Homo sapiens: one gene and its partner. The protein of the gene in region 1 purifies or fractionates together with the protein of each later gene. This does not show direct contact. Each region holds a gene or a part of one and is shown on either strand. Other genes may lie near its edges.

Region 1 (7,715 bases):
AGAGGGAAATTTATAGCACTAAATGACCACAAGAGAAAGCAGGAAAGATCTAAAATCGACACCCTAACATCATAATTAAAAGAACTAGAGAAGCAAGAGCAAACACATTTAAAAGCTAGCAGAAGACAAGAATAACTAAGATCAGAGCAGAACTGAAGGAGATAGGGACACAAAAAACCCTTCAAAAAATCAATGAATCCAGGAACTGGTTTTTTGAAAAGATCAACAAAATTGATAGACTGCTAGCAAGACAAAGAAGAAAAGAGAGAAGAATCAAATAGGTGCACTAAAAAATAATAAAGGGGATATCCCCACCGATCCCACAGAAATACAAACTACCATCAGAGAATACTACAAACACCTCTACGCAAATAAATTAGAAAATCTAGAAGAAATGGATAAATTCCTGGACACATACACCCTCCCAAGACTAAACCAGGAAAAAATTGAATCTCTGAATAGACCAATAACAGGTTCTGAAATTGAGGCAATAATTAATAGCCTACCAACCAAAAAAAGTCCAGAACCAGACAGATTCACAGCCAAATTCTACCAGAGGTACAAAGAGGAGCTGGTACCATTCCTTCTGAAACTATTCCAATCAATAGAAAAAGAGGGAATCCTCCATAACTCATTCTATGAGGCCAGCACCATCCTGACATCAATGTCTGGCAGAGACACAACAAAAAAGAGAATTTTAGGCCAATGTCTTTGATGAACATCAATGCGAAAATCCTCAATGAAATACTGGCAAGCCGAATCCAGCAGCACATCAAAAAGCTTATCCACCACAACGAAGTCGGCTTCATCCCTGGGATGCCAGGCTGGTTCAACATATGCAAATCAATAAATGTAATCCATCACGTAAACAGAACCAATGACAAAAACCACATGATTATCTCAATAGACGCAGAAAAGGCCTTCGACAAAATTCAACAGCCCTTCATGCTAAAAACTCTCAATAAACTAGGTATTGATGGAACGTATCTCAAAATAATAAGAGCTGCTTATGACAAGCCCACAGCCAATATCATACTGAATGGGCAAAAGCTGGAAGCATTCCCCTTGAAAACCAGCACAAGACAAGGATGCCCTCTCTCACCACTCCTATTCTACATAGTACTGGAAGTTCTGGCCAGGGCAATCATGCAAGAGAAAGAAATAAAGTGTACTCAATTAGGAAAAGAGGAAGTCAAATTGTCCCTGTTTGCAGATGACATGATTGTACATTTAGAAAACCCCTTGTCTCAGCCCAAAATCTCCTTAAGCTGATAAGCAACTTCAGCAAAGTCTCAGGATACAAAATCAATGTGAAAAAATCACAAGCATTCCTATACACCAATAAAAGACAGAGAGCCAAATCATGAGTGAACTCCCATTCACTATTGCTACAAAGGGAATAAAATACCTAGGAATCCAACTTATAAGGGATGTGAAGGACCTCTTCAAGGAGAACTACAAACCACTGCTCAATGAAATAAAAGAGGACACAAACAAATGGAAGAACATTCCATGCTCATGGATAGAAGGAATCAATATCATGAAAATGGCCATACTGCCCAAAGTAATTTATAGATTCAATGCTATCAAGCTACCACTGACTTTCTTCACAGAATTGGAGAAAACTACTTTAAAGTTCATGTGGAACCAAAAAAGAGCCCTCATAGCCAAGACAATCCTAAGCAAAATGAACAAAGCCGGAGGCATCATGCTACCTGACTTCAAACTATACTACAAGGCTACAGTAACCAAAACAGCATGGTACTTGTACCAAAACAGAGATATAGACCAATGGAACAGAACAGAGCCTTCAGAAATAACACCACACATCTACAACCATCTGATTTTTGACAAACCTGACAAAAACAAGAAATGGGGAAAGGATTCCCTATTTAATAAGTGGTGCTGGGAAAACTGGCTAGCCATATAGAAAGCTGAAACTGGATCCCTTCCTTACACCTTATACAAAAATTAAATCAGATGGATTAAAGACTTAAATGTAAGACCTAAAACCATAAAAACTCCAGAGGAAAACCTAGGCAATACCATTCAGGACATAGGCATGGGCAAATACTTTATGACTAAAATACCAAAAGCAATGGCAACAAAAGCCAAAATCGACAAATGGGATCTAATTAAACTAAAGAGCTTCTGCACAGCAAAATAAACTATCAGCAGAGTGAACAGGCAACCTACAGAATGGGAGAAAATTTTTACAATCTATCCATCTGACAAAGGGCTAATATCCAGAATCTACAAAGAACTTAAACAAATTTACAAGAAAAAACAAACAACCCCATCATAAAGTGGGCAAAGGATATGAACAGACACTTCTCAAAAGAAGACATTTATGCAGCCAAAAGACACATGAAAAAATCTTCATCATCACTGGTCATTAGAGAAATGCAAATCAAAACTACAATTAGATACCATCTCACGCCAATTAGAATAGTGATCATTAAAAAGTCAGGAAACAACAGATGCTGGAGAGGATGTGGAGAAATAGGAACACTTTTACACTGTTGGTGGGAGTGTAAATTAGTTCAACCATTGTGGAAGACAGTGTGGCAATTCCTCAAGGATCTAGAACTAGAAATACCATTTGACTGAGCCATCACATTACTGGGTATATACCCAAAGGATTATAAATCATGCTGCTATAAAGACACATGCACACATATGTTTATTGCAGCACTATTCACAATAGCAAAGACTTGGAACCAACCCAAATGTCCATCAATAATAGACTGGATAAAGAAAATGTGGCACATATACACCAAGGAATACTATGCAGCCATAAAAAAGGAAGAGTTCATGTCCTTTGTGGGGACATGGATGAAGGTCCATCCATCATTCATCCAATGATGGATGAAGGAAGCCATCATTCTCAGCAAACTATCACAAGGACAGAAAACCAAACACTGCATGTTCTCACTCATAAGTGGGAGTTGAACAATGAGAACACATGGACACAGGGAGGAGAACATCACATATTGGGGCCTGTCAGGGGGTTGGGGGCTGGGGGAGGGATAGCATTAGGAGAAATACCTAATATAATGACGAGTTGATGGGTGCAGCAAACCAACATGGCACATGTATACCTATGTAACAAACCCGCATGTTGTGCACATGTAACCCAGAACTTAAAATATAACTAAAAAAAATTATATGTGAGTGACTTCGAGTTCCTAATTATTGTGATTAAAAATTCAAAGTGCTATTTTGTTTAATAATTCAATTTACATAATTTATACAAAGTAGCTGTTTATCCTAATTGCTTTCATTAGCATTAACATATTAGCTATAACTTTTACCTGTGGAAGGAACACTTTCTCTAATTTTAATGAAAATACCATTTGGGTAACAGTGGTCTTGCTTCAGACTTTCTGACAGCTAATCCCTTGGTGTCCTTCGATCTCCAGTTGGGGACTGCAGGATCCTACCCATTTTCCTTTCCTTTTGTGGGCTGTCACTGCCCCCTTTATCACTTGGGTTTCTTCTCTTCCATGTCTGGTCTTAGAGTGAGACAGTCTCTCAGTTCTCCCTAACTTGCTGTTCTAAAGATGAGCTTATAAACCATTTTCATTTTAAGGACTTAATCATGATTGCAAAAGATCCAAAATCATAAATAAAAATTTCAGACTCATAGTGTCTGTCATTGTCACCAACTATAATTCCCGGTCCCCTTCCTAGATGTCTGTCTCTGAGGTCCTCACCCAAGATTCCCCACCCTATGGAAAATGGAGGTCACTCAGCATGTCTCCCTCAGATGCTGGCAGCCATGTGAGGCTGTGGGGTCTAGGAGAGGTCTCCTCAGCTTTTGTCCCTGAAGTGTGGTTTGGGCTGATCAGAGTATAGAACAGAGTGGGTATCCAAGTATCTTCTAAAGGGTGCATGGTACTTTCCAAGACCTCTCGCCTGAGCATTCCCCATCCAGGGGGCTGCAGCTCAGGTACCCTTGGCTGAGCCTGACTGTAAAGTCTTATGCATCAACCTCTTCAGAGAAGAGACAGGGATTCTTGGAGACCAGAGTTGAGGATTGAGGGCCACTGTCAGGAATGCGTGAGGAGGGGAGAGCCTTGGTTTGTTTCAAGGGAAGAGTTTGAAGTTGAGATGAAGTGGTGGATGAATGGGCATGATAGCTACAGGGTCAGAATAAGTTCTAGTGATGACACATTGCTAGCTGCCTCCTGGGAATGTGCTTTTCAATTTCTGTCCCTTCCTCCTGCCCCTGCTGGTGACTCCAGTGGAACCTGGAACAGATAGATCTTCATTGGTAGGAAGTTCCCAGATGTCAGGGACAGGACCCCCGGGACCCCAGTCTACAAGACATAAGGGCTGGGGATGAGGAAGGAACTCAGGGAGTGTTGGGCAATCACACCCTTTCCCAGGGAGGAGCTACCTGGGCTTATTCACAGGGCGGGTCCCCAGGTGCTCTCAGCCTGGGTCTGTTCCCACTTAAGTTTCTCTGGGTGCTGTAAACAGAGCTGGCTTGGAGCCTCAGCCCTCTGCCTTTCTCTTCTCTTCCATCTTTTGTTAGGGATCCTGGGCTCTCCTCTTCTCTCTGGGAAGCCAGAGCCCAAGTGCTCCATTCCCAGGGAGGGAGTGCCCTCTAGGGCCAGGGGGAGTGAAGGCCTGAGGAGGCACCAGCTGGAGAAGAAGGGCAGGTCCTGGAGGCCAAGTCTGGAAGGGAAGGAGCTGCTGGCCAATCAGGGGCGAGCCGACTGCACCCTGACCTGCTGGGCTGGAACAGCACAGAACCCACAGGTATCTGTGAGTTTGAGTGTGTGTGTGTGTGTGTGTGTGTATTTCTTTAGAAGTCTTCATTCAGCAATGGGACGGAAGTCTATAGGGTTAAAATGTGTACATGGTAGGGAAAGCTCCCCTGATCTCGTTTTTTGGAACTCTTTCTCCAAATAAGAAAATTTTCTTCATTCTAAATTCTTCTAAATGAGTTTGGTTTCACCACTGCTGGATCTTTCTTGGCAAGGCTGTGGGTTCTGAGGTTACCTCTACCCAATTTCTTCCTTTTCTGTAGAGCCCTAAATTCTTATCTATTATGTCTCACTTGTCTCCTGGTCTAATGTTTCTTTCAGTATACAGGATGCACAGCAATGTGAGCCAAGGTGGTAAATCCTTGGCTCTAGCTTATCCTACCAGCTTAGTGTTTGCAGTTCATGGTGTGGATTGGAGACATTATCAGTTCTGTCTCTGGCAAGGTCAGGGACTGGGCTGAAGCCTTGATATTTTGGATGTATGATATGACCAGCTTGGGGCAGGATTTGCCATACTGACGTTTCATGGTTGTGGAAGCACAGTGATTAAGTGACCAGGGTGCAAACCAGAATTGATAGTGGCTTCCAGTAGCTTTGCAGGAGGCCAGCTCCTAACAGGCCTTCAATCTTGGGAAAGTGAATCCTTACCTCTCATTTAACTAACGAGGGAGGCTGAACATTTTTCCTTATATTTATTAGGTGCCTGCCTCATTTGTAATTAGCTCATTTTGTCTTCACTGCAGTTTTCCTGAATGAATGGAATCCTGGGTGTTATCTGCTAAGTGGTTGCTTGTCCTGACCCAGGAGGCTTCCACATGTTCTACTCTTAAGACATGGTTTTAAAAATTTTCCATTTGGGGACTGCTGATTGCAGTTTAAAAACCCTGGAGGGCAATGATCTATCCCATTTGGTTTCAAACTCCACTTTATATTTTCTCAGTAGGAAAATTGGGGGGAAAGTTGATGTTTTGGGTGGTAGCTCATACAGCTAAAGTTTCAGTCTGACTGAGTATGAGTAAGCAATTCACTTCTACCTGAAAGAGCAGGAAAGATTCCTGGAGCTGGAAAAGACTATAGTGATCCTATAGTTCAACCTCTTGGGCCCACATTGAGAACGTCCATCAGAAACTCAAACAGGTTGTGAAGTTTCAGGCAGAGGCTCTGGAGTCAGACAGACCTGGGTATGAATCTGGCTCTGACCCTATTATCTGGGAAACTTAGGACAAGTGACTCAAACTCTCTGAGGCCCAGTGTTCTGATGATAAGTGCGGGTCTCATAGGTCATTGTGAGACTACTTAGTGAATATCCATGGAGTCCTCAGCAAAAACCTTGGAACACAGAATGCAGTCAGTAAGTGGTAGCTGTTATTATGATTCTCACTAAAGAAGAGGTTAGTCGAACAACTGTCAGGGATCTTTGCAGAGTAGATGACTGAATTGAATGACTTTACATACCTGGGACTCTCAAATGGTGCAGGGGGCGAAGCCAAGCCTGCTTCTGCTTGTAGTTCACTCCATCTGAGCCTCAATGTTCTTACCTATAAAAATTGAATCAAATATGAAATTGCACCACTAGATATGAAAATAAATACACAGTGTTTTTTCATAACAGCTACCTTGAGGATTTTAGAAATTGTTATTTTCTACCCTGAAAGGCCTAAGATCAGGCACTGCGCTTCTATGAGGAACCAGGAGTTGCCCAGGGCAACAGGAGGTGGGTGGGGAGTCGGTGGCTAGACATAGCCATTAGTGCCCTCACATTTATTGGGAACCTGATGTGTTTAAGGGGCCCCGAGAAGCCTGAGCCAGGTGCTGGCCCTCAGGAAGCCACAGGATGGTAGGGGAGGCAGACAGTGGTGCCACATAGTAGGTGGGTGCTCCACTTGCAGAGTTAGCATGGTTGTGTTAACTGTTAGCCTCTCTTCCAGGGCTGCCGTCCACACTCTCCCGGTCAGAGTCCTGGGACCACATGGGGACGCTGCCATGGCTTCTTGCCTTCTTCATTCTGGGTCTCCAGGCTTGGGGTAAGTTTTATTTACTTGCATCAGAAGTGCTTTTGATGAGCAAGAGAAGACCGTTCTCAAGTTTAATAATAGAAACCCATCCGAGTGCTTTCACTTTGTTAGTGGATAGTGTAGCTTTGCAATTTGGAGCCCTGTTCTAGAGTTTACAGATTTTTTTCAAATCCTTGCCTGTCCTTTGTTATGGTCTTCAACAAGTTATTCAATTTCTTGGAATCTTATTTGCTCCCATGATGAAAGGATAATATTGCTCATTTCTTAGAGTTGTTTTTGAGGATTAAATTAGATCACAAGTGTGCGCCATTTAGCACAATGCCCAAGTAGTTAGTGCTGGGTAATTTGTAGCTATGATTTAATTATTGTCACCATCGTTATTATACCAGTCATAGTTAAACCCAGCACTTGGGTCTACATTTGTAAATAAAAGCAAATTCCCCAAGAGTAGCAATGCCGTTTCTCTAGATTAAGAAGATTTCTTATCGTTATATACATAAGAGTAGACACATAGCAATGTTCATTAAATAAATGCTGTTGAATTAAAATGAAAGTGAGCTTGGTGATTCTTAAATATGACATGTTTTTCAGTTTGTTTTACATACACAGACCCCCTTCGGAAGGAAAAATGTAATATAGCTTTCTCTCTGTCCTCTGCTACTCAGACAGCAAATTTAATGGGATTACCTGGAGTTAGTGTTAGAGAAACTCACAGGCCTTTCATTGTATGAATGGAGAAGCTGAGGCCCTGATGGGGAAATTAACTTGCCCAAGCAAAGCAGGGAGTTTTGTGTGGTCCTCATCCCTGCCTCCTGGTTCCTGCCCTGCCAGGTGTCAGTGTTGGCCTGCGGGCTGCTCTTCCACTCTGAGAGTCCTGTGGGTTTCATTTGTAAAGTGTCCTCTCCGGGCTCCTCCCTCCCCCTCC
Region 2 (3,072 bases), on another chromosome or scaffold:
CTGCGTAACTCATTATTTGAAAGAGGTGATTTATGGTTAAACAAGCTAAGAGAAATACATGCACTGTCTTGTTGGAACTAAGCAGAGCTCTGATCTAGTCAAAATGTCATTTTATTTCTTCTCTGCTGCACTTATAGCTCCGTCTGGTGGGCCGGCCCCCTTTGCCAGTACCCGCTGTAGGAATTGGCACAGTTCACTTGCACCAGCATGAAGATATCCTCGCCAAGACCTTCGCTTGATGATGACTTTTGAAGAAACACTATTTCTCTTTAAGAAAATGGCCATTAAGGCCGGGTGGGGTGGCACATGCCTGTAATCCCAGCACTTTGGGAGGCCAAGGCTGGTGGATCACCTGAGGTCAGGAGTTCGAGACCAGCCTGGCCAACACGGTGAAACCCCGCCTCTACTAAAAATACAAAAAATAGCCGGGTGTGGTGGTGGGCACCTGTGATCCCAGCTTCCTGGGAGGCTGAGGCAAGAGAATCGCTTGAATCTGGGAGGCGGAGGTTGCAGTGAGCCAGGATCACACCATTGCTGTCCAGCCTGGGTGACAGAGCAAGACTGCGTTTCAAAAAAAAAAAAAAAAAAACCCATTAAAAGAGGCCTCCTTCCTCCACTCTCTCAACCCCTCTGTTGGGTAACATGAAAAGACTGTATTCCTCTAAGATGTTGGGATTGATATACGTGATTTAATCTGCAATAGGTGGAATAACCAGGGGAACTGGTTATGAATATGTGAATGCAACCAGCAAATTTATCCTTGAAGGTGTGATGGTAGAAATAGGAAAACAACAAAAGAAAAACAATAACAAAAAAAGAAAGTGTGATGGCTGGGTGCAGTGGCTCACGCCTGTAATCCCAGCACTTTGGGAGGCTTAGGCGGCTGGATCACCTGAGGTCAGGAGTTCAAGACCAGCCTGGTCAACGTGGTGAAACGCCGTTTCTACTAAAAATATGAAAATTAGTTGGGTGTGGTGGCATGCGCTTGTAGTCTCAGCTACTCCGGAGGCTGAGGCAGGAGAATTGCTTGAACCTGGAAGGCAGAGGTTGCAGTGAGCCGAAATGGCGCCACTGTACTCCAACCTGGGCGACAGAGCAAGACTCCATCTCATAAATTAAAAGGAAAGTATGATAGTGTTATGGATTTTAGCTCTGAGTGAGCTGGAAAACTAGGTCATTATCTAGATGATTTCAGACTTGACCCTAATTGACCATATATGACCAGGAAACACTTCTGAGTTTACAGCTCCGTGGAGATGACCTCAACACTGCCTCTTGATTTGTTTGATGCATGTCACTTTCATTAATTTTCCCCCTCCTTTTTGAAAGTCCTGTGGCAGTACTAATATTTTCATTTTATGTAATCTCTGGTGCTGCTTTCCAGTCACTGTATGAAGTGTCTCCCCAACACTAGCAAATCTAGGTCCTACTAAATACAAATCTCTGGGTGGATGATCTTCTAGTACTGTATTTTTAAATTAAGGAGTTTTAGTTATAATGAAATTGATTTGTAGTCTGTTTTGCCGTAAACTTGTTTTTCTTTAAATTGTTCTTACAGTGATATCTTACTATTTTTAACTGTCTGGGGTTTCTGATATGGGGATTTCAGCCCCTGGTTAATCAGTCTTGTCCCTACAAGTCCCTGATGCAGTATGTTTATTTGTGATGTTTAAAGAACATTTCTTGGCTGGGCGCTGCGGCTTGCGCCTGTAATCTCAGCACTTTGGGAGGCTGAGATGGGTGGATCACCTGAGGTTGGGAGTTCGAGACCAGCCTGACAAAACATAGTGAAACCCCGTCTCTACTAAAAATACAAAAATTAGCTGGGCGTGGTGGTGGGTGTCTGTAATCCCAGCTATTCGGGAGGCTGAGGCAGGAGAATCGCTTGAACCCAGGAGGTGGAGGTTGCAGTGAGCTGAGATCCTGCCACTGCACTCCAGTCTGGGTGACAGAGCAAGACTCCATCTCAAAAAATAAATAAATAGAAAGAGAGAGAGAGGAAAAAAAAAGAAAAGAACACTTCTTTATTTGAGGGACTTTCCCAACACCAGGTGCTTGGGGATTTCTTAGAGATCACCAACCGACTCCCTCACTGTGAAATTAAACCAAGTACTGGAAACGTAACTAAACAGCGAACCATGTAGCTTCACCTGACTCAGTGCTGGGGGCCTCTACCATCTACTGTGCTTGTGTCATGATGCTTTTTCTCTGAAGTGGTGTGGGAAGTACCAGGGGACTGGCAGAAGCCCAGGCCCTCTCTACTTTTACCAGCAACTGATCATGTCTTTCAGAATCCATGTACATATAGGCTGTTCTAGCCACAGTGGTAGATTTATGATTCACATCCGAAAGTGTGCCTTAGTTATCAATTTAACATTTCTCTAGTATTCATATCCCTTTTCTTACCATATACCTCAGTGTATCCTTCCTGTGTCAAGCCTTATAAATCATGTAATTTAGTGCCACTCATGTAAATCAGTAAAATCACAAAGGTCTATTTAATGAAAACGATTTACCAATGTTGTTTTTTTTTAACAAGAAAAAAAATAAAAGCACATTGTCATTTTTTTTCCTCAGGACTCCTGGACTTCTTGAATTAAAAGATTTCAAAAGTCTAAGCACAAAAATGAGATGGAAGATTAGATCTTTGTAAAAGGTTAGTTTAGGCTGGGCGTGGTAGCTCACGCCTGTAATCACAGCACTGTGGGAGGTCAAGATGGGTGCATCACCTGAGGTCAGGCATTCGAGACTAGCCTGGCCAACATGGCTAAACCCCGTCTCTTACTAAAAATATAAAAATTAGCAGGGCATGGTGGTGCATGCCTGTAATCCCAGCTACTTGGGAGGCTGAGGCAGGAGAATCACTTGATCTCGGGAGGCGGAGGTTGCAGTGAGCCGAGATTGCACCACTGTACTCCAGCCTGGGTGACAGAGCGGGACTCTGTCTCAAAAAATAAAAGGTTACTTTAAATCTCTCCGAATTTCTTTTGAGACAGAGTCTCACTTTGTCGCCCAGGCTGGAGTGGTGCGATCTCAGCTCACTGCAACCTCCACCTCCTGGGTTCAAAAGAT

What was found.
Region 2: the proteins of PGLYRP3 (region 1) and DHTKD1 purify together in Homo sapiens (affinity purification with mass spectrometry; 3 studies listed by BioGRID and IntAct, with this or other methods). This does not show direct contact.

Annotation. Positions count from the first base shown.
Region 1 is NC_000001.11:153,309,695-153,317,409, reverse strand, and holds the start of PGLYRP3 (peptidoglycan recognition protein 3 precursor), read left to right. Parts: upstream 1-4,457; 5' UTR 4,458-4,767; intron 4,768-6,703; 5' UTR 6,704-6,744; coding exon 6,745-6,799; intron 6,800-7,715. UniProt on the Homo sapiens protein: Pattern receptor that binds to murein peptidoglycans (PGN) of Gram-positive bacteria. Has bactericidal activity towards Gram-positive bacteria. May kill Gram-positive bacteria by interfering with peptidoglycan biosynthesis.
Region 2 is NC_000010.11:12,120,650-12,123,721, forward strand, and holds the end of DHTKD1 (2-oxoadipate dehydrogenase complex component E1), read left to right. Parts: intron 1-137; coding exon 138-239; 3' UTR 240-2,572; downstream 2,573-3,072. UniProt on the Homo sapiens protein: 2-oxoadipate dehydrogenase (E1a) component of the 2-oxoadipate dehydrogenase complex (OADHC). Participates in the first step, rate limiting for the overall conversion of 2-oxoadipate (alpha-ketoadipate) to glutaryl-CoA and CO(2) catalyzed by the whole OADHC.